Linked DNA regions of Homo sapiens: regions 2 and 3 are each linked to region 1. A link means that fine-mapping ties the variant in region 1 to the plasma level of a protein whose gene starts in the linked region. Region 1 holds a variant in brackets. A gene starts in each other region. All regions are shown on their forward strands. Distances are between the middles of the regions. Region 1 has its middle 7.8 kb from the start of LPA. Region 2 holds the start of RSPO3 (R-spondin 3). Region 3 holds the start of CXCL9 (C-X-C motif chemokine ligand 9).

The links. PIP is the posterior inclusion probability: the model's chance that the variant is causal. The UK Biobank Pharma Proteomics Project read protein levels with antibody pairs (Olink). The fine-mapping took linkage between variants from a reference panel, not from the people measured, so its PIPs are less certain.
Region 2: RSPO3 starts here. The variant in region 1 is fine-mapped to the plasma level of the RSPO3 protein (UK Biobank, PIP above 0.99).
Region 3: it holds the start of CXCL9, and the variant in region 1 is fine-mapped to the plasma level of the CXCL9 protein (UK Biobank, PIP above 0.99).

Annotation. Positions count from the first base shown.
Region 1 is chr6:160,668,010-160,676,191 of GRCh38, forward strand. No RefSeq gene overlaps it. Among named protein-coding and RNA genes, the nearest start is that of LPA, 7.8 kb to the left of the region's middle. The variant C/T (reference allele first, on the strand shown) is at 3,397.
Region 2 is chr6:127,113,546-127,121,695 of GRCh38, forward strand. It overlaps RSPO3 (R-spondin 3), which reads left to right and starts at 5,126. Exons shown (of 5, transcript NM_032784.5): 1 at 5,126-5,744. The coding sequence starts at 5,648. It overlaps LOC105377989 (a long non-coding RNA gene), which reads right to left. Exons shown (of 14, transcript XR_002956387.2): 4 at 5,356-8,150.
Region 3 is chr4:76,002,947-76,011,122 of GRCh38, forward strand. CXCL9 (C-X-C motif chemokine ligand 9) reads right to left here and starts at 4,563. Exons shown (of 4, transcript NM_002416.3): 1 at 4,440-4,563; 2 at 3,202-3,328; 3 at 1,863-1,947; 4 at 1-753. The coding sequence starts at 4,503. The coding sequence ends at 652. SDAD1-AS1 (SDAD1 antisense RNA 1) reads left to right here. Exons shown (of 3, transcript NR_125906.1): 3 at 2,127-2,996. RefSeq lists an enhancer at 8,174-8,176.

The sequences.
Region 1 (8,182 bases):
CAAGGCAAACATCCTGATAATGGTGAAAACCTACCGCAAGTTGCCAGGAAAGTTGATGTGGTCTGCGAGTAGGTGCTGCCATCCAGTGGCCGACATAGAGATGTCATCTCTGAGGGCAGGTAGGCCACAGGTGACAAGAGGATTGAAGCCCTCCCTGATGGGGCCTTGGGGAGAGGGCAGCAGGGTAAGTCCAGCGGCAGGATCAGTCCATTGATTGTGGATGACGACTGACCTGGAAAATCCCCTTGGCCTCAACACCTCCAAACTCTGCATTTGATCCAAGTCAGGGAACACCTGGAAACATGAAGGGGAGAGCAGGAAAACTTTGACCTCCCTCTCAGAGGCTGAGAACGCCAATTGACCTGATGTCATTATTGACATGTAGAAAATTGATGAACAGGCCTGAGTTATGTTTTGTGGCACCTCATGGTCTAGTTAGTGTTCTGAGAATCATTTTCTCAGTGGACCTGCAGGTGAGACCAGGCGAGGCAGAAGCCTAGTGGGGGATGGTGGTTAGAAATGTGTGGATGGTTGTGGGGCAGAAGAAACAGCAAGTAGGCTCTGGGCCAGCTACAAACTGGTTATATGATGTCTACTGATGATGATAGTGATGGTGGTGGTGGTGGTGATGGTGGTGGTGGTAATAATTGTGATGGTGGTGGAATGATGATGATGGTGGTGGTGGGTAGTAATGATGGTGTTGGTGATGGTGGTAGTGGTCGTGGTGATGGTGATAGTGATAGTGATGGTGGTGGTAATGATAATGCTAATGGTGGTGGTAATGATAATGATTATCATGATGATAGCGGTGGTGATGGTGATGGTGATGATAATGGTGATGGTGGTAGAATGATGATGATGGTGATGGTGGTGGTGGTGGTAGTAATGATGATGGTGGTGGTGATGATGTTGAGGGTGATGATAATAGTGACAGTGGTGGTGGTAATGATAATGGTGATGGTGGAATGATGGTGATGGTGGTGGAATGATGATGGTGGTGCTGAGTAGTAATGATGGTGATGGTGGTGGTGGCTGTGGTGATGATGGTGGTGGTAGTGGTAGTAACGATGATGGTGGTGGTGATGATAGTGATGATGGTGATGATGTTGAGGGTGATGATAATAGTGATAGCGGTGGTGGTAATGATAATGGTGATGGTGGCGGTGGTGATGATGTTGATGAAGATGATAATGGGAGTGGTGGTGGCAATGTGGATGGTGATGATGATGTTGACGATGATGATGCTCATCACAATCACCTTATATGTTAGTACAGGTAAGAAAGCCAAGGCTAAAAGAGATTAAATAACTGCCCAATGTCACATGGAAGATGGTAGAGCCAGAATTCACACCCAGATCCTTATGATTTTAGCTTGGTGCTTTCATCAGTTGAGGTATTGGAGAGGATCTGTTTGCTTTCTGGCTGCCCAGCAGTCTATCACCCTACATCCCATAATCCTGTTGAGGGATCCACCCTTTGCCCTTCTGGGTATGAGTGGGGTCCTGCCTCCACCTCTAGCATGTAATAGCTGATGCAGGTTGGAGCCAATCAGTGATGGGTTCAGGGACAGGCCTGTGACCCAAGTTCAACCTCTCAGACCTGGCCAACTATTGTTCACTTAATGGGGACAGTGGCCTTCCTCAGTCTTTCCTGGCAAAGCAAGAGCTGCCACAGCATCTGCCACCACAAGAATCTCACCTTTGTGCCCAAGGATGATGCCTACTGCATGGCTGGACAGGGCCTGGGCCCTGGGGCCATCATGTGAGCCTAAAGACTTTTCAGCTCAACAAGAATTCCCCTTTTTTGCTTAATCCATCTTAAGTTGGATTTTCTGTCACTTGCAAGAAAGAGTCATGTTAGATACAACTCTATTCTGTATATTAGTAGGAGCTGCCATGATGGAGTGCGTAGCACGTGCTCGACACTTGATGCACATTCTTATTGTTTCTCCCCCGACAACCCTGCAGCCCCCATTTCATATAAGAAAACAATCAATGAGAGTTCATGACTTTTCTAAGTCCCGACAGCCAGTAAGTGGGAACCAGGGTTCCAATTCAGGTCTCCCTGTGCCATCCTGCACCTTCTCTGAGCCTCAGGTTCCTCACTTGTAAAATAGGAACAATAATATCTAAGTCTTAGAGGTTTGCAGCATTTAAATTTTTATAAGTGCAAAACACTGGGAGCAGCCTGGCACACCCAAAGGTGTTCCTCTTTTGCCAAGTTTCCTTTTAGTTGGCCTCAGTGTTCCCAGACTCAGGAGTGCAGAAAGGGGGATCAAGAAACCAAGGAGGATGACATTTTAAAAATAGTAGAAAAAGCACAGAAAAAGGAAAGCAAACTTTGCAATTATCTAGACCAGTGGTTTTTAACCTTTTTGTTAAACAAAAAACAAACAAACAAAAACCTTTCTTCAAATGACAGCTTATGCAAAAGGCTGATGTGGAAAACACCACTTGAAAATGCTGGTTTTACAAATGAGGGGTTGGAGTCAAGTCATACAAAGAGTTAACGTGCCTAGTCCAGGTCTGTCTGGCTAGTGGCAGAGTCAGAACGCTTTTCTAGGGCTCCAGACTCATAATGTCCTCACCAGCACCTCTGAGAAAGTCAGCAGAGTCAGAACGCTTTTCTAGGTTCCAGACTCATAATGTCCTCACCAGCACCTCTGAGAAAGTCAGGCAGAGATCCCAAAACAGTCTTAGTGTTCCAGTGGTCAAGGGGGTAAGTCTGATAGATATAATTATTGTCAGGGCATACTGAAAAATGAAGAAGGAATCCCTAAGATGTAGTCCAGGTGCTGATACCACATCCTGCACAGATGTTCCCTCTCTTTCTCTCACCCATCAACCAATACCAAATACTATCCTAGATTTGGGGCCATGGGGCCTGTCTGCCTCTCCCTTAGCTGCAGGTCCCCTGCCTAACACCCTCCCACACACATTAGACATGTGGATTTGGTAAGAAGGCTAGTTTATTATAACTTTTGTCATTATTGTTTTACATCATGTTTAGAAATACAATCTGGCTAATTTCACATAAAAAATAATCTAACACCCTTAAGGGCTGGGTGAAAACCCCACTTACCTGAGGAAGCAATATGAATGCTGGAGTTATGAATTCAGAGACTCAAAGACCTTTACTGGTTTTCTGCTTGTTTTAGGTATAAAGGAAATACACAATCATTAAAATAAAAAATGGATCACACCCCAAAACTTCAACAGCAAAACTATTTTGCTAACATGCCCCACTATGAAACCAAAGACAAGAAGTCAGCTACAAATAAAGACCCTGTACAAGGCCTTGGCCCTGTGAAAACCTCCAAAGAAGAAGTCTATTGGCTGTACTCAATCTACACTGCAGTTAAAGAAACACCCACACAGAGACATGAGAAAGAACCAA[C/T]GTAAGAACTCCAATAAATCAAATGGCCAGAAGGTCATATGTCCTCCAAACAACTGCACCAGTTTTCCAACAAGGGTTCTTAACAAGACTGAGCTAACTCAAATGACAGAAATATAATTCAGACTACGGATACAAATGAAGATCATCAAGATTTAGCACAATGGCAAAATCCAATTCAAGGAAATTAAAAATCACAATAAAATAATATAGAGGCTGAAAGATTAAATTGCTGGTATAAAAAAAGAACCTAACGGATCTGACAGAGCTGAGAGCTGAGAAACAAACTATAAGAATTTCACAATGCAATCCAAGTATTAATAGGAGAATAGACCAAGCTGAGGAAAGGATCTCAGAAATGGAAGACTAGCTCTCTGCAATCAGACAGTTGACAAAAATGAAGAAAAAAGAAGGAAAATGAATGAACAAAACCTACAAGAAATATGGGGAAAAAAGGCCAAATCTACAAATCATTGGCATCTCTGAAAGGGATGGGGAGAAAGCTAACAATCTGGAAAACAATTTAGGATACCAACCATGAAAACTTCCCCAATCTTGCTAGAGAGGCCAACAGTCAAATTCAGAAAATACAGAGAATCCCTGCCAGATTCTACACAAGAAGATCATCCCAAGACACATAATCATCAGCTTTTCCAAGGTCAAAATGAAAGACAGAATGTTAAAGGCAACTAGAGAGAAAGGGCAGGTCATCTACAAAGGGAACCCCATCAACCTAACAGCATACCTCTCAGCTGAACCTCTGCAAGCCAGAAGAGATTGTGGGCCTATATTCAACATTTTAAAATATATATATATTCAGCCAAAAATTTCATATCCAACCAAACTAAGCTTCCTAAGCAACAGAGAAATAAGATCCCTTTTAGATAAGCAAATGTTGAGGGAGTTTGTTACCACCAGACCTGCCTTACAAGAGATCTTGAAAAGAGCACCAACTATAGAAAGGAAAGAGGGCTACTAGCCAATACAAAAATACAATTAAATTCACAAACCAGTGACACTATAAAGCCACCACACAAACAAGCCAGCATAAAAACACAATCAGAGCATCAAATTCACACATACCAATACTTGCCTTGAATGTAAATGGGCTAAATGCCCAACTTAAGAGGCACAGAGTGGCAAGCTCGATAAAAAAGCAAGACCCAATTGTATGCTGTTGTCAAGAGAACCATCTCACATGTAATGACACCCAAAGGCTCAAAATAAAGAGATGGAGGAGAATCTACCACGCAAATGGAAATCAGAAAAAAGCAGGGGTGGCAATCCTAATTTCAGACAAAACAGACTTTAAACCAACAAAGACCAAAAAAGACAAAGAAGGGCATTACATAATGGTAAAGGGTTCAATTCAACAAGACCAACTATCCTAAATATATATGCATCCAACACAAGAGCACCCAGCTTCATAAAGAAAGTTCTTAGAGACCTACAAAGAGACTGAGATGCCCACACAATAATAGTGGGAGACTTCAGCAGTTCACTGACAGTATTAGACAGATCATTGAGGCAGAAAACTTACAAAGATATTCAGGACCTGAACTCAACATTGGATCAAATGGATCTGATAGACCTCCACAGAACTCTCTACCCCCAAACAATAGAATATATATTATTCTCATAATCACATGGCACATTCTCTAAAAATCAACCACATAATTGGACATAAAACAATCCTCAGCAAATGCAAAAGAACCAAAATTATACCAAAAACACCCTCAGACGACAGCTCAATAAAAATAGAAGCCAAGACTAAGAAAATTACTCAAAACCATGCAATTACATGGGAATTAAACAACATGCTCCTGAATGACTTGGGGGTAAATAATAAAACTAAGGCAGAAATCAAGAAGTTCTTTGAAACTAAAGAGAATTAAGAAACAACATACTGGAATCTCTGGGACACAGCTAAGGTAGTGTTAAGAGGGAAATTCATAGCATTAAAAGCTCACATCAAAAAGAAAGATCCCAAAGTAAGAACCTAACATCACAACTTGAAGAATTAGAGAAACAAGAGCAAATCAACTCCAAAACTAGCAGCAGGCAAGGAAAACCAAAATCAGAGTTGAAATGAAGAAAGTCAAGACATGAAAAAACATTCAAAAGATCAACAAATCCAAGAGTTGGTTTTTTGAAAACATTAATAAGACAGATAGTTTGCTACCTGGCTAATAAAGAAGAAAAGAGAGAGAAGACCCAAAGTAACACAATTACAAATGACAAGGGGGATGTTAGCACTGACCCCACAAAAATAAAAATAACCATCAGAAACTACTACAGACAGCTCTATGCACACAAACTAGAAAATCTAGAAGAGATGGATAAATTACTGGACACATACACCCTCCCAAGACAGAACCAGGAAGAAATTGATTCCTTGAACAGAACCACAATGATCTCCAAAATTGAATCAGTAATGAATAGCCTACTAAGAAACAAAAGGCCAGGACCAGATAGATTCACAGCTGAATTCTACCAGATGTGCAAAGAAGAGCTAGTACCATTCCTACTGAAACGTCAAAAAAAATTGAGGAAGAGGGACTGCTTCCCATTTTATTCTATGAGGCCAGCATCATCCTGATACCAAAACCTGAAAGAGACACAACAACAATAAAAACTTCAGGCTGATATCCTTGATGAACACTGATACAAAAATCCTCAACAAAATACTTGCAAACCTAATCCAGCAGGACATCAAAAAGCTAATCCATCATGATCAAATAGTCTTCATCCCTGGGATGTAAGATTGGTTCAACATATGTAAATCAATAAAATGTGACTCATCACATAAATGTGACTAAAGACAAAACCCACATGATTATCTTGATAGATGCAGAAAAGGCTTTTGAAAAAATGTACCACCGTTCATGTTGAAAACTCTCAATAAACTAGGTATTGAAGGAATATATCTCAAAATAATAAGAGACATCTATGACAAACCCACAGCCAGCATCATACTGAATGGGCAAAAGCTGGATGCATTCCCCTTGAAAACCAGCACAAGGTAAGGATGCCCTCTCTCATCAGTCCTATTCAACACAGTATTGGAAGTCCTGGCCAGAGCAGTCAAGCAAGGGAAAGAAATAAAGAGCATCCATACGGGAAGAGAGGAAATCAAACTATCCCTGTTTGCAGATGACATGATTCTGTATCTAGAAAACCCCATAGTCTCAGCCCAAAAGCTCCTTCTCTGTTAATCAACTTCAGCAAAGTTTCAGAATACAAAATCAAAATACAAAAATCACTAGCATCCCTATACACCAAGAGCCAAGCCGAGAGCCAAATCAGGAACACAATCCCATTCACAATTGCCACAAAAAATAAAATACCTAAGAATACAGCCAACCAGGGCGGTGACAGATCTCTACATTGAGAATTACAAAATGCTGCTCAAAGAAATCAGGGATGACACAAGTGAATGGAAAAACATTCCATGCTCATGGATCGGAAGAATCAATATCATTAAAATGGCCATATGGCCCAAAGTAATTTACAGATTCATTGCTATTCCTATCAAACTGCCAATGACATTCTTCACAGCACTGTTAAAAAACTATTTTAAAATTTATATAGAACCAAAAAGGAGCCAGAATACCCATGGTAATCCTAAACAAAAAGAACAAAGGTGGAGGCATCACATTACCTGTCTTCAAACTACACTTCAGGGCCATAGTAACCAAAACAACATGGTACTGGTGAAAACAAAACAAAACAAAACAAACAAACAAACAAACAGACACATAGACCAACGGGACAGAATAGAGAGCCCAGAAATAAGGCCAAACCTACAACCATCTGATCTTTGACAAAGCTGACAAAAATCAAGGTCTAATATCCAGCATCTATAAGAAACTTAAACAAATTTACAAGAAACAAAACAACTCCATTAAAAAGTATGCAAGAGACATGACCAAACACTTTTCTAAAGGAAACATACAGGCAGCCCACAAGCATATGAAAAAATGCTCAATATCACTGATAGTTAGAGAAATGTAAATCAAAACCACAACGAGAAACCATCTCATCTCAGCCAGAATGGCTATTATTTTTAAAAAAGTCAAAAAATAACAGATGCTGGAAAGGTTGTGGAGAAAAGGGAGCACTTACACACTGTTGGTGGGACTGTAAATTAGTTCATCTATTGTAGAAAGCAGTCCAGTGATTCCTCAAAGAGCTAAAAACAGACCTAACACTCAACCCAGCAATCCTATTACCGGGTATATACCCAGAGGAATATAAATTACTCTATCATAAAGACAGATGAATGTGAATGTTCATTGCAGCACTATTCATAAGAGCAAAGACTTGGAATCACCTATATGCCTATCGATGACAGATTGGATAAAGAAAATGTGGTACATATACACCATGAAATACTATGTGGCCATAAAAAAGAATGAGATAATGCCTTTTACAGGAACACGAATGGAGCTGGAGGCCATTATCCTTAGAAAACTAACACAGGAACAGAAAACCAAATACCACATGTTCACACTTACAAGTGGGAGCTAAATGATGACAACTCATGGACACAAAAATGGGAGCAACAGACACTGGGGCCTACCTGAAGGAGAAGAGCGGGAGGAGAGAGAGGAGCAGGAAATACTAAGTATTGGGTACTAGGCTTAGGACCTAGGTGACAAAATAATCTGTACAACTAACCCACGAGACACAAATTTACTTATGCAAAAAACCTGCACATGTAACCCTGAACCTAAAATAAAAGTTAAAATTAATTAAAATAGAATGAAAAAGGTTCTGAAAAAAAAAA
Region 2 (8,150 bases), 34 Mb before region 1:
TTCTGGATTCGGTTGTCTCATCTATGAGACAATGTTTTGAGATAATACATGTAAAAGAAGCTGCAAAAATTACTCATTGGTATTATCCCTCATCTAGCACTCTACATCTTATACTTTTTTTTTTTTTTTTGAGAAAGAGTCTCGCTCTGTTGCCCAGGCTGGAGTGCAGTGGCGCAATCTTGGGTCACTGCAACCTCCACCTCCCGGGTTCAAGCGATTCTCCTGCCTCAGCTTCCCAAGTAGCTGGGACTACAGGCACGTGCCACCACACCCGGCTAATTTTTTGTATTTTTAGTAGGGATGGGGTTTCACTGTGTTAGCCAGGATGGTCTCAATCTCCTAACCTCGTGATCTGCCCACCGCAGCCTCCCAAAGTGCTGGAATTACAGGCGTGAGCTACCGTGCCCAGCCTACAACTTATACTTTCATGTCTTTGATAGTAACCCTTCAACCTAAATCTGTGACCACAACCACTCAACCTTCACTGTTGAACTTCAGAAGAGGTTCCTGGGATGAAGGGTACATGGATATAAATCCTCATCCAAAGATAAGAATAGGAAAAATAAAATGTGACTTTTATTTCCAACTTTTTATTCCAAAAAAGAAAGTAATAACATAAAGATAAAAAGAATGGCTCTTAGTGAGATCCACATTCCTCCCTCATCTGTGATTCCTACAAACAGGTCTAAATGAGTGCTCTCTTTATGAGATGCAGAAGTCCTTTTTCCTGCTCTCTGTAGGACTCTGCCTAGAATCTCGAGTTTATAATTTGTTCTTTCTGGTTGTCCCAAAGTCTGCAGACATCTAGACAGATTGAACTTGTCCTGGATTTATCTTTGCTGGGCCAGAGTCATCTAGGATTCTTGTAATGGGTTAGGCATTTCCAGAAAATCAACAAGTTTGAAAGCAGATTTCTAAATCTGGACCTATTCAATTAAACACAATTCTGTAAGTAAAAGCTGTGATGTCACACAACTAGAAATAGCTCTGACATTTGCAATTACAAGTCTGTCTTTCTTTCTTAGAAATAGTTACATTATTGTCAGAGCTGAAAGGAACTTTGGAAATGGTTTAGTTCAATTTCCTCATTTTTCAGATGAAGAAACCTGACACACAACAATATAAGTAGAAAACAAGGACTCACCTTGATCCCCAGATTCACAATTTAGTGCCCTCTTACTACAACATACAGCCTCTTTGTACTAAAGCTCCATGATCATGCAAAATTTTCTGAGCTGTTAAATTCTTTATATTGAGTACTATTGGATATTCACATTTTAAGTGAGCCCAGCAATCAATTGATTTGTGAAATAAGTTTTAAACTTAGGCATATACCAGATGGTGCTTGCCACAATTACATAAATGTCCCATAACTTCATCTGGGAGGAAGAACATTCTTTCTTGTTGACAGAAAGTAATCCATCATGGGTCTTGATTTTCTCATTTTCTTAATGCTATATAACCATATAATCACTTTTTAAATTGCTACAATAATTCTGTCTCCTTTCTTTCTCTCTCTAAAAATAGTTTTCCATCATCTACTAATTTCAATGGTGTTTAAATGCTGCTACCCACTCTGTATTTCAGGGATGACTTCTAGCTGCATCAGTTACACACATCCCACCAGCAGTACCCTGTTTGACTTACTGACTCAGATGCATCCAGATCTGAGTAACTGGAGAGCTGTGCATTTTCAGAATCTGCATATTCGCTCTGTGGTATAATGACTGATGTCAGCCCCAACTTTGCCAAACATCTCTCATCACTACTAGTTATATCCCTTTCCAAACTATTGGGCTTGCTCTCTCTTTCTGGAGCACACCCCCTTTCACATATTTGCAGTATGGATTCAACAATATGACAATCATTTTCTTTCCTTAGAGTGCCACTGCTGCAATGGATAAAAATAACTTGTTACTGTTGTCACTGCCTGGTTGGAATAAGTGGAAGGAGAGATGAGAAGTTGCAGTATCTAGTCGGGATATGCTTAGCCTCCTATCTTTGTTCAAAGCTATTCTATTCTCCTGGCCCAAGTCTCCCAGTCTCCTGGTTATCCAAAACTCCCTGGAACTAATGTGTTTTGGAGAAAAATAAGCAAATGTTGACCTCTATGCTGAGCCTATGGTTTTTAACTTTCTTTAGGCTTGAGCTCTGAAATCCACTGGCAGCCACAGGCTACTGTGAGTGTTGTTTTCTTGTTTGAAGAAAAAAAAAAAGGTACTATGTTTTAGAAAATATGCCATGGCATGCTTTTCATAAGCTTCTAAGACAGTTGAGGGAACGTAAAACTCAGCCAGGCAAGTAAACACACATTTAATATGACGGTAATATGGATCAGGAAAAAGTTATTCTAAAGCACAGCATCAAGAGAGAAAGAATACTCTCCTCGTTTATTTAATGTTTTCCTTATGTTTCCTCTGAGCAGAGCTTATTCCTTGACAAGCTTTTCCTTCCCACTGCATCTAGCACTTCTTTTCTGGGATGGCTCAAGAACTGTAGCTTCTCATTTGGTTTGTTTATTTACTTACACTGCCATTCCTGTTCTCATCCAAACTAACATGTGTCTGCACAATGCACAGTGAAAAGTAAATGTCTTTCTTCATGTTTATTTCCCTGAAGTTGTTCATCAAATAGCTTTTTCACATCCCTTTTGCAATCTCATCCCATCCGGCTCAAGTATCCCAGATTAGAAAGGCTGTCTCTGGAGTCCTTTTCAAAGGGAGCCTCCCATAGTCTTTAAATCCCCCATGTTTTATGGTGCAGATATTCAGGATTTGAGGTATTAGCAAGAAGGAAAGCAAAGCAGATGGGGACAGGCACAGTAAAATAGAGTGGCTTCTTTTTTGGATAATCATTATTGGAATTGTCTTGTTATCTGTAACTTCGCTGGTTCAAAGTGATAAACTCAGTCATTTATAAGTAGACACTTTGCAACAGATAAAGGATGGAAAGTCTGTGTGTGGGGGTGTGCACACACATGTGCATACAATGTACAGAAAAAGTTCTACCACTGAAAGAGGGATGTTGTAAATGGGAGCTCTTAAAAAGAAGGCAAAAATCATAATCCTGTTGAGGTGTCATCTTCCTCATAATATCAAACCTAAAGGAGACTATGCCTACTTTCGAAATTCCAACACGAGCATGCAAAATAATAAATGATATTTAATTAAAGAATTAACATCAAAAGGCCATCTCTCAGATTCTAATTTTTAGCATCTTGAAAATAATGCATATTTCAAGTTCCCTTCCTTTTGCATCCAGGCCACTTTATCGCCTCTATCCTACTTTTGGGATGTATAACAAATATACCACTAAAGGACTCCAGAGACATACAATTCACAGCATTGCAAACTTACAAAATGCTCTAATTCATGTAAATTTACCTAATTTACATAAATTGAAGGCAATCCAGTAATAGGGATTACAAATGGAGGAAGGAGATAGAAGTGCAAGTGTCACTTGCTACTCTGCAAGGCTTTAGCAATTGACTTACACTGAATTATTTGAGCACAAAAATTAGCAAAGCACCTATGAATCAGGGACTCTTTCAAAGTGACCTCCCAGAAGTTTGCTGCTGTGTTAACCTGTAGTGCTAGTGTAGTCCTTCAGATATTCTGTTAAATATAATACATAGGGCAGGCTTATGTTAAAATCACTTGAGGCTTGTGACTTTCGACTAAATACTTCTTCAGTAATTACTGAAAAGTTCATCGGCTGGTGCTACCGGAGAAAAGACGTGGAAAGCTCACCATTTACTAACGACAGCCAGGGTGTGCCCCACTCAGGGGTGCCGGCCCTCTGTTCTCCCATCCCTGGGTGGGCCAGAGCATCTTACTCTCTGCTGCCTTGGGCCTCCACTTGGGCTGGGAAGATAAGAAAGTAGTGGACCTTCCCCTTCCTTCCCCAAGACTGGGAAAATCTTTCCAAATCTTATTCCCAGTCTTCCAGATGCGAGATTAGAATGTACAACAGATCCTCTCAAGAACACTGGGAGACCGAGGGTGGGAGAGAAAACTCCAAGGGGGGCGAGCTGACTATAGAGGGAATTGCCTGAGCGGGAAAGGAATCTTCCAAAGCCACAGAAAAGCCTTGGTTTGGAAGAAAGCCGTAGCACAGCTGCATTTCCAACGGGAAGGTCCTGAGCGCACACACTTCTGGGTCCTCCCCGCTCGGAGCAGGTAAACCTCAGAGTAGCTGACCGGCAGCACCCACAGAGTTTCCTCCCCACCACCCGCCTGGCGACCAACTGCAGCCGAAAAGAAAGAAAGAAAGGAAAGAAAGAAAGAAAGAAGAAGGAAGGAAGGAAGGAAGGAAGGAAGGAAGGAAGGAAGGAAAGAAAGAAAGAAAGACAAAGAAAGAGGAAGGAAGAAAGAAAGAAAAGAAAGAAAGAGAAAGAAAGAAAGAAAGAAAGAAAGAAAGAAAGAAAGAAAGAAAGAAAGAAAGAAAGAAAGAAAGAAAGAAAGAGAGAGAAAAAGAAAAAGGGAGAAAGGCAACAGAGGAGAAGGTCAGGAAAGCCGGGAACAAGTCAGCAGCCAGAAACTCTCCAGCGATCTGCCAAGGGGGAGAGGGTAGTTGCGCGCCGGCGCTGGGGATGGGGTGGGGGCGCTGGGGCACAAGGGCGCAGGGGCGCACGGCCACCGACAGCCGGGTGCGCCTAGCTTGAGGCCGCGGAGAGGAGCCGAACTGGGATGGGTGGGGGGTCTTCGGCCTCAACACTGCCTGCCAGCCCCAGTGCGCCCAAGTCTCCCCGCCAGAGCTGCCCTTCTGGAGGGGCTCTTCGCACGCACTGCTTTCCCCATTCTTCTGGCTGGAATTCTCCGGCCGTCACTGCAGTGTCCAGAGATGCTGCGCTGTAGACCCGGGACCCCTTAGGCGCCTCTTCCCGTCCCTCTGCCAAAGCGCAACGCCTGTACTTTTCCAGCTCCCTCTTTCCCTCTTGAAATTGAAAGTTATTGAGGTCGCTCAGGGTTGTTGCTCCAGCAGTTTCCTTCCCCGCCCCCGAGCTCCCCCCCGCCCCCCACAGCCATCCCCCCTCCTCTCCCCCTCCCTGCCCTCCTCTCCCTCCCCCCTCCCTGCCCTCCTCCTCCTCCTCCCCTATGTGGTGCTCCCGGGAGCCCAGCCCAACACTGGAGCGTCTCCTGCTCGCGCACGCCAGAAGCAGCTCGGGGTCTCTCCGCCGCCCCTTGGCCATGGCCGCTGTGCCGACGGCGCCCGCTCCCCTGCGCTCCAGGGGCCCCCGCCGCTGCAGCCGCAGCCGCCGCAGCTTCTGAGCCCAAGGGGCCGCCGCTGCAGCCGCCGCCGCCGCCGCTCGCCCGCCCGGATCCCGCCTGCGGCAGTTGCCGCACAACATGCTACCTGCGGCCGCCCCGGCGGCTCCTGGAACCCCGGTTCGCGGCGATGCCAGCCACCCCAGCGAAGCCGCCGCAGTTCAGTGCTTGGATAATTTGAAAGTACAATAGTTGGTTTCCCTGTCCACCCGCCCCACTTCGCTTGCCATCACAGCACGCCTATCGGATGTGAGAGGAGAAGTCCCGCTGCTCGGGCACTGTCTATATACGCCTAACACCTACATATATTTTAAAAACATTAAATATAATTAACAATCAAAAGAAAGAGGAGAAAGGAAGGGAAGCATTACTGGGTTACTATGCACTTGCGACTGATTTCTTGGCTTTTTATCATTTTGAACTTTATGGAATACATCGGCAGCCAAAACGCCTCCCGGGGAAGGCGCCAGCGAAGAAGTAAGTGCAGGGTTTTTTACGCGTTTGCTCCCTCCCGCCGCGTTCACCTGTCGGGTCGCTTTGCCTGTCCGGAGCCGGCTCCCAACTGCAGCGGTCCTCCCGCCCTGCGCCTCGCAGAGGAGATGCAGGTTCGGGCTTTGGGGGTATGGACGGCGTCTTTCACCCTTGCCTCTCGGCGCCCCTGCCTTCCGCAGCATCCTAGCCGGTGCGAGGGGCGGGCGGACGCGGCGCTAAGGTGGCTCCCGCCCCATGGTAACTTCAGGTTCGCGGGAAAGTTCGGTCCTGGGTTAGACTCGCACCCGGGATTTGTGCTTTCCTTTTGAGGATCGGACAGGGGCACCCAGCCGAAGGCACTTGGGACTCCCAGACGCAGGATGCCTCTGACCGCTGAGTAAATGACAAGGGAGGCGCGGCCGCGGTACCCGCTCACCTAGCGCAACCGCCTCGCGCGGGGAGACCTCGGCTGGGCCCTTAGGCTGGACTCCGGTAGCCGAACGCCCGCTACCCGGCCAGGAAGCCAGGGAGCGAGCGCCTGCGCGGCCGCATCCCCGACACGCACCAGCGGAGCCAAAGGGCGCGCGAGGCGATGGGGTTCGCGTGTCTGCGCGTTTGCAGAGCTGCCGGACGTCCCCCGCCCGAGGGTTGAAGACAGCAAAACCCCAGCTGTGGGGAGCCGGAGGTGCGGAGTTTCCAGGTTCTCTCTTGTCACATGTGAGCGTCTGTACCATCTCTGGCCCTTTCAAGTGTGTCCCCTGGGACACACACGTACAGAGAGTGGGGTCTCCCTAAAGATTCGCCTCCTCGCTGCCCTTAATGCTGTTATTTGGAGGGTTGGATTGTGATGGCTTCTTAAGACGGTGTCCTAGCTGGAATTAAGCGGACACCACCACGGCAGCCTCAACCTGGGTTGGTCTGTCTGAAAGGTAGAATCTTCCCAAGATGAAGGGACAGATGCGAAGGTGTCACCTCTCCTCGCTCCAGGGTAGCCTGGCGCCCTCGCTGCTCTAGTGTCTGTGTTCCCATGGGGAGTCCTTTCGCAGATCTCAGAGCAGGGGCGACCCTGGCTCTATGGTTGGGGGCGCTGGTGGAGAGAGGGAGGAGGAAACTTCTCCTGGAGCTCGCGAGGGGCAGGAAGCGATGCTGCTGCTCTGGGCTCTCGCACCTCCGCGGCGTGCAGCCCAGGCCCAGCGGCCCCACCTGGTTTCCCAAGGGGATCCCTCTCCCAGCGTCCCGCCCGGGAAGCCTTTCGGGGCAGACGTCGGGGCAGCGCGGAGGACACAACACCGGCTTGTGTGAGATGGAAATTTAGTAATCGCTTCTCGGCCGCTGTTTGTCCCTGCCCTGCCCCTGGGCATGAGGGTCCCCTGAAAGCTCCCTTTGTATTGCTGGCCTCGGCCAGACAAGGTTTGATTCACCTGAAAATTGCCTTTTAAAAAGGTGGCAGTGCCAGAGCGACAGGGGCCCTGGCCGGGCCTCACCGCCTTTAGGATCACCTAGCAGGGGGCAGGAGAGCCCAAACTAAATATGTCAGGGCATCCGATTTATTATTCTTGGCCTCCGAATGGTGTGTACTCTGGTAACTCCCCACCCACTCTTTCATTCCGGCCCGGACGCGGAAGGGGAGGCCTGGGGTTCAGCGGTGTCCACGCGCCTGGCGGTCCCCGCCTCCTCTCCTCCCAGGGTCTGGCCTGGGGAATTGAGTCTCAGGGTCAGTGGGCATAGGGAGCCCGGGCTGGAGCGCAACCCACTCTGCTTTCCATCCGCTCTTCCAGCCCGTGCCCATTGGGCGTCCCAGAGCACGCTCTCTCCTTTACCCCCACCGAGGACCCCCGGGCTGGGAGCCACACACTTGTCAAGGAGGGACAGGGTACTGAGTGTCAGAGGCGTCTCGCTTTGCAGTTTTGGGGCCCCTGATTCTGAAGGAAGACACAGGAAAGAAAGCTTGTAGTCCTTTTGTGCCCACCTCCCCCAGCGAGGACCACGGCGCAGGAAGCTTTCCCCGGGCGCTGCCTCAGGGAGCTGTGGGATGATGCACCTCTAGGTTGGGCCGAGAGGAGTCAAAAGGCAAACTGCTTTTCGACCTGCCTTAATCATCTCAAGGCCAAGTCAAAGGAGACCTCTGTTTGTGTTGAGGGGATGAAAGAAGGAATAGTGGAACTGGGTTGCAATTCCAATTTTTCTGTGGGAGTGGGACTGGGAGACAGCACCCACAGCGATGCTCTTGCTCCTTCGCACTTGAGTCTGCGTTTGCGGCTTGGTTTGCTGGTGCAATCCTGGTAGAGGGGCGACCCCTTGCGTCCTCGGAGGAGACAGACTAGACTCTTGGCAGGTGCAGTATGACTTAAGGAGGAAGGAGTGGAGGGTAGAGAGGTCCTCTTTAAATGCCCAGAAACTCAAGGTCAAACT
Region 3 (8,176 bases), not on the chromosome of region 1:
GGGGAACAAAAAGAAATAAAGTGGTCAGCCTGAGCGGGCAAGATGGAATCACATGGCTTCCAAAGCCAGAAAGGAGGCTCTGAAAGCCACACACTGGTGATCTCCAGTGGTGATACCCAATAACAATCAGCATGAATCTCTCAGACACATTGTGTGTGAGGCCTGTAGGCTGATTCAAATACAGAGGTTGATGGCCACAGCAGCTTGGTGAGGTCCAGCTCAATTTCAAACTGCTTGGCTCACCAGCATGCTAACAGGCTTAGGACTTGCTGACATGTGCCTCAGATACTCTCTGGAGGCTGCAGTACGTGGAAGCCTAGGGCTGCTCTTCCAGGCAGCTGTTGTGAGTGGGATGTGGTTGGGTGAACATCTGTGTAGACATGGGTATTGCTAAAATCATGGCCTTAAGCATGATGAAATTCAACTGGTGGGTGGTAGAAGAACAAAGACAATCATAGCCTTTAACAATTCTTAACGTTTGGATTCTTAAAATCAACTTTCTAACTTTAGTTACAATTTCAGAGTAATGTTTTAAATTTTCTAGTCAAATTAATAAGCCTTTGTATTATATGCCATCCTCCTTTGGAATGATAGCGGTATAATTAAAATAGAACATTTTTAACACAGAATACTTATTGGTGAAGTGGTCTCTTATGTAGTCTTCTTTTGACGAGAACGTTGAGATTTTCGAACTTTCAGAACTTTCTTTTTTTGATGTTTTTTCCCATTCTTTTGCTTTTTCTTTTGGCTGACCTGTGAGAAGAAGGGGAAAAAGGGCAATGTTTCTGAATCTTACCATTTTTACTTCCTTTTATTTGGACTCTCCTGATCATTGTCTCATACCCACATAGTCTCAAAACCACATTAAAGTCACTTCACTCTCAGAGGGGCTCCCTTAGATTCTCTCTACTTTGCTCACTTTGAGGAGGAGGCAACAGCCTTCAAACTGGCTGTCTTTTGTCTATTCTTCTGGCTTATTACATTCTCCTGGCAACCTTGCTTACCACTCACCTGCCCCAGCTACAACCCTCTGAAGGTGGCACTATTATCATCCACGTTTTACATAGGAGGAGGCTGAGTTCTGGAGAGGGTGACTTTCCCAAATCTAGACAGCTAGTATGTGGCAGAACCTCCAGTCTGTGAGACTCCAGAACCCAATCTCCCACCCACATATTCTGTGGCTCTCTTCAAATCCAACTCCTTAGTATGCCATGCAGGATTCCTCCCGCTTTGTCCTGATCTACTTTTCTGCCTCAGTCCCTTCACTCTCTTCACACAAACTCCAGCCACATTAATGGAGGCTCCCTGAACACAGCAGGTTCTCTCATGATTCTACTCTTCTGCTCATGCTGTCCTTACCTTCCTGGCAAATTATTTATCCTTCAAGACCCAAATCAAATATCACCTGACATGAGAAATCTTCCTTAACACTTTCTCCTGCCCCATTCCCCCAGCAAAGTTAAGTACTCCCTCCTCTATGTCGTCAAGATTCTTGTGCATACTTTTATATTTCTCACATTGTACCATAATTATTAGCATATGCACTACAACAGGAAGGGACTATACCTTATTATCTTTGTATCCTGTGTCTACCATTCAATTCATTACATATTTATTGTATTAAATAAGGACAAGCTCTGTACCCCCAAGGAACACACATTCTTCCAGTGGGAGACAGAGAGGGGATACTATATGTAGGAACCTAATTTTGTCCTAGGAACAAAATAGAAGCACCATAATATGAATGAAAAATGTATTCTTAAAAGTTATGTATTCTTATAGTGTTAATGAAAAAGCAGATTCTTTGTCTTCTAAAGTTAATTTCTAAAAGAAAGAAAATTTTGATCTTCCTTTTCACCAACCTGTTTCTCCCACTTTTTAATCAGTTCCTTCACATCTGCTGAATCTGGGTTTAGACATGTTTGAACTCCATTCTTCAGTGTAGCACTGCCAAAGAAATAGCAATGAGATAGTTTTTTCTCATTAATAATTTAAATGCTTCTTCTCAGAAATAATGAAAATCAGTATGAATTGTGCTGAATTTTCTAATGAAACTACTTAAAATTATTTCCTAGGACAAGATGAGTCACTGGTTGAATTTTTTTTTTTTTCTTTTTTTGAGACAGAATTTCGCTCTGTTGCCAGGCTGGAGTACAGTGGTGCGATCTCAGCTTGCTGCAACTTCCAACTCCTGGATTCAAGCGATTCTCCTGCCTCAGCCTCCCGAATAGCTGGGACTACAGGCATGCGCCACCACGCCCAGCTAATTTTTGTATTTTTAGTAGAGACAGGGTTTTACCACATTGGCCAGGATGGTCTCAATCTCTTGACCTCATGATCTGCCCACCTCAGCCTCCCAAAGTGCTGGGATTACAGGTGTGAGCCACTGCACCCGGCCCTGGTTAAATTTTAAAAATTACTTACAGTAGACTGTCTGGAAATAATTTAAATGTTCCTTTAATTTTTCTGTATAGTCTGAGAATAAGAGTAGTCAAGGATGACTTATAAAGACAAAATATGCACACATCCTTCAACCTAGCAATCCTAATCTCTAGAAAGGAAAGAATTACAGACACAATACTGCCACAGTAAGTTTTATTTCAGCAGTAAAAATTTGGAAATAATCTATATTTCCAACAATAATCCTGGTCATATAAATTATGGTTTATCCATATGATGAAATACAGTTTGGCCATTAAAAATGACATTAAGTAAAAATGACATTATTAGAGATTTACTGACACGAGAAAATGTTCATGATATAGTGTTAATGAAAAAGCAGATTACAAAACAGTGTATAGTATATGATTTAATTTTTGTGCTTATATACGTGTATGTAAAAACATATCTATGTTATGTGCACACGAAGCAAGTAAGGAAGATTTAGAAAACTGTATACTAAGGGGTTAACAGTATTTGTCACTCAAGGGTAGAATTATGCGTGATTTTTATTTTCTTCTATTGTGTTACCTGCATTAAACATTTTGTACAATAAACATGTGTCATTCTTGGGGCCTAATCTACCAGAAATTCCTTGCATTTTTAAGGAGAAGAAAAGAAAGGAGCTGCCCAAATTTATGGAGGGGGTAACCATCTGATTTTTAAGTGTTTGTATGGGCAAGCACTCCAAGGGTAAAACTCATGCTAAATTTAATGTTCTTGCCAATATGGTGCATGCATGTTAGCTGGGTTGTTACTTACATGATTTCAATTTTCTCGCAGGAAGGGCTTGGGGCAAATTGTTTAAGGTCTTTCAAGGATTGTAGGTGGATAGTCCCTTGGTTGGTGCTGATGCAGGAACAGCGACCCTTTCTCACTACTGGGGTTCCTGAGGGAAAGAAAAAGATAGAACACATCAGTATAGGCCAATGTTTCAGTTTAGGTGATCTATCAAAATGATACACTTGACTGAGTCATGATTATTGCTATCATTTACCGAGTGCCTAAAAATAATCACCACAAACCTTTGAAGGAGGTATCATCTCTATTTTATACATAAGGAAACTAAGGTTCAGAAAGATTAAGAACAAAGTCATACAGCTTTTAGGGAGCAGGGGCAGGGTTTTAGCCCAGATCTCTCTGAGTCCAAAGGCGTTGCTCTTAACTACCACACCGTAAGTCCGTGGGAGAAAAAGAGACTTTCACAATATTTAATAAATGCCTATCACAAGACAAACAGATAACTAATTCATGTATGCTATGCTGATCACAGTTTCTTAAGCAACTCCTAAACCATCTATTATTTATTATCTGACCTTAAGGAATGGAACTGGTGTTGGTGTTGAATAGAAAGCACTCCTTTGTAACCAATCACCACTTTCATCCTCATCCTCTCTCCTCCCCACTGCCTTGCTTTTCAATAGTGTTTTAAATTTTTGAAAACCCCTTAAAATACATTATCTTAATTCTTAAATTCATATATTTACTTGGTACTTATTGTACCATATGCCATACATTGTGTAGCAGTCAGAAAAGGTATAACTACAAAGTTCTATTTTACAGATGATGAGGAAACTGAGGTCTAGAAAGATTAAGTAATTTGTCCAAGGTAACAAAGATAGTTAGTAAATAGATTAGGGACAAATTCTCTGATTATTGGTTGGATCCTTAATTGGTTAGCCACAGATATACTTAGCAAAAAACAGTATCAGGGAGAAGAAAATAATTTAGGAGATAGAGTTCTCATTATTACCCAGTTCAATGAACATTTATTGAACACTTACTAGGAATTCATACACCTAGACTACAAAGACTTGTGTTTGACTTGGCAGATCGAAGTTATGAACTTTGGATAACTGGTCATGTCACTGAGAAGCTTTTATGACTGACCAAATATTACTCTTCAATGCAGGCAGAACATTCACCTTTATCTGGCTAATCAAGATTCTTTTACAGTGAATCACTTCTCTTACTTTACAACCTAACTCAGAACCCCTTACCTTGCACTCCAATCAGAACCAGCAAGATGATGCCCAAGAGGAAAAGAACACCACTTTTCTTCATAGTGATAGAATGGAGTTCCAAGTCACTCCTGTATTGGATTTTGAGCCTGAGAAATTCTTTAGAGAACACATTTTGGGGATCATATTTATTTAGGATATTCATTTCTCTCCTAAACTCTGATTGGCTAGTATCTTTAGCTGAGCTAACTAAATTGACCACAAACTTGATTGTGCTGGGGGAAACCCTAGTCTCAGATCCAAGGGAATTTCTGCATGTTTTTATTTCCATTTCACATAAATGGGTGGTTTATAGTAAGGGATGTGAAACTAGCAACACTGATAGCCTTTGGCACATTCACAGTTGCTCACCTGTGTGAAGAATAGGTTATATAATGAATATACTAATGTTATACAACAAAGGTTGGAGATGTGGTTTCCAGATGGGAAATATTAAAGTCCAGATAAATAATATACTTTTCAAATTCCCTTACTATTTATGGCATATTCTTCTGTATAATAGATGGCTACATTGATATTTTCTTATATTGCCCACTTAACAACTTAAAGCACCTTAATTTCCTCTGGGACCAGGTCATTTTCTACTAGTGGTAAGCTCATTCTGTATCATTCCTGCTACAGTATTATTTTTTAAACTAATAAATTGGTTAGAATAAGGGGTCAGTTGCATGTAAGAGACCCAAATTAACAGTGGCTAAGAAATGCAATAAAAATGAAGATAAATAGCTGGGACCTAATTAAAGAGCTTTTGCACAGCAAAAGGAACAGTCAGCAGAGTAAACAGACAACCCACAGAGTGGGAGAAAATCTTCACAATCTATATACCTGACAAAGGACTAATATCCAGAATCTAGAATGAATTCAAACAAATCATTAAGTAAAAAACAAACAATCCCATTAAAAAGTGGGCTAAGGACATCAATATACAATTCTCAAAAGAAGATACACGAATAGCCAACAAACATATGAAAAAATGCTCATCACTAATGATCAGGGAAATGCAAATCAAAACCACGGTGTGATACCACCTTACACCTGCAAGAATGGCCATAATCAAAAAATCAAAAAACAGCAGATGTTGGTGTGGACTTGGTGATCAGGGAACACTTCTACACTGCTGGTGGGAATGTAAACTAGCACAGCCGCTATGGAAAACAGTGTGGAGATTCCTTAAAGAACTAAAAAGCAGAATTACCATTTTATCCAGCAATCCCACTACTGGGTATCTACCCAGAGGAAAAGAAGTCATTATTTGAAAAATGTACTTGCACATGCATGTTTATAGCAGCACAATTCACAATTGCAAAATCATGGAACCAACCCAAATGCCCATCAATCAATGAGTGAATAAAGAAACTGTGGTTTATATATACACAATCGAATACTACTCAGTCACAAAAAGGAATGAATTAACGGCATTAGCAGTGACCTGGATGAGATTGGAGACTATTATTCTAAGTGAAGTAACTCAGGAATGGAAAACCAATCATCATCTGTTCTCACTGGTATGTGGGAGCTAAGCTATGAGGACACAAAGGCATAAGAATGATACAATGGAGTTTGGGGACTTGTGGAGAAGAGTGGGAGCGGGGTGAGGGATAAAAGACTACAAATAGGGTGCAGTGTATACTGCTTGGGTGATGGGTGAACCGAAATCTCACAAATCACCACTAAAGAACTTATTCGTGTAACCAAATACCACCTGTACCCCAATAACTTATGGAAAAATAAAAAAAAAAAAAACAACAACAGAAAACAGTGGCTAAGATAGAAGCTTATTTCTCCCTGAGAGATGTAGGTGGATTAGCACTTGGATAGTGGCTCTTTCCCATGAGGTCTTCCAGGCTTCTCCTTTCTTGTGTTGTCACCATCTCTAGATTGCTGCCCTCATGCACATGGCCAAAGGTGGCTTGCCACCATGTCCAATTTCCAGGTATAGGATGATGAGAAGGCAGAAAAAGGGCATGTCCCTCCTTTTTAGACATCCTAGAAGTTGCACCCATCATTTTCTATCACCTCCCATGGAGGCAGGCCTTAATCACATGGCTACACCTAGTTGTAGGGGAAGTTAAGAAACGTCATCTTTATTTTGGTTGACTAGCTAAAGATTGGAGATTTCCTTATTGTAAAACAATGTTTCTCAACGTTTTTTTTCATTATGGACTCAGCACTGCATGCGTGTGTGCGCGCATGTGCACCCACACACACACACACACCCCCCCACATTTCACCTTGCTCTGAGAAAAAATAAAATGAACTGAAAACTAAATTTAATTTCTTCCTGAAGAGAGAAATCAAATGCTAAGAAATAAGATTTTGTTGGGTAGGGTTGAACCTTGGTAGGCCACTAGTCATTGCAATATCTAAAATTTTTTAGCTCTCCAAGAACCAATATTTTCCCCCTTGGGAGCAATTTACCTCTCTTCCCATTGACAATGCATGCTGTAGAATTGGAGGAAAATGGATATTAGCATTTCATGTCACATGGTGCACATTTTTTGACTGACTTCTATACAGATTATTAATACTTAAATGGAATTACAGAATTCTTTTTGAATAAAACATGTGGTGACCATTGATACAGCTTATCCATTTGCTCATGCTTAATTTTGGTACTGACTGTGGCAATGCATAGAGTGCAAATAGGTTCACGTTCCTGCTTTACCACTTAATGACTGTGTGCAAAATACTTAATTTTTGTGAGCTTCATCTCCCTCATTTAAGAAAATTATTAGACCTCACAGGGTGTTAAAATTAATGCCAAGGACGGATTGTCAACTGCAAAGCCTCACAGGGCTAGTGGCTGTTCTTTCCAGCAAAGAAAGGAGGATGGAAATTTCTTAGGATAAGAACTAAGGCCCAGCACTGTTGGTGCTACCCACCTTTCTAGCCTCTTCTTACACAGCTCTCTGCTCCCATCACTTTGTCTTCTCTCAGTTTTCTTTTCTTTTCTCCTTCTCCTTCCCCTCCCCTCTTCTTTTCTTTTCTTTTCTTTCTTTTTGAGACCGTTTTTTTTTTTTGCCCAGGCTAGAGTGCAATGGTGCAATCTCAGCTCACGGCAACTTTCGTCTCCCAGGCTCAAGCGATTCTCCTGCCTCAGCCTCCCAAGTAGCTGGGATTACAGGCATCCACCACCATGCCAGGCTAATTTCTGTATTTTTAGTAGAGACCGGGTTTCACCACGTTGCCCAGGCCGGTCTCGAACTCCTGACCTCAAGTGATCTGCCCGCCCTCCCAAAGTGCTGCAATTGCAGGCGTGAGCCACTGCACCCGGCCCTTCTCTCAGTTTTCAAAGGGGACAATGCTCCTTCCCATGGCACTGTTTTTGCTCATGCCATTCTTCTGCCTGGAGCGACTGTGCATGCTCCTCATTCCTGCCCTCCTGCATAGTAGTTACTCACCATAGTTACCCAGGCCAGCATCATTTCCCTGGGAAGACTTTCCTGAACCCCAGAGGGGCTCTCACCGCACACTTGCAGAGGCCTTGCTGAGCCCGTGTCCGCAGCAACGCTACGTTTCCCTGCAACCCTATGGTTAACATTTCCTTCCACCACTAGGCAAGGAAGGCCTGCGACGCTCCCCGTCTGAGCATGGTGCTAAACACAGTGCCTAGCACCCAGTAAGCGCACACGCATGAGGGAAGGAGCTGGGAGCTGGCTCGGCAGGTCTGGAAGTTGGATAGGGTCTGTAAAGGGCTGCCTGGCTCCAGGGGCCTC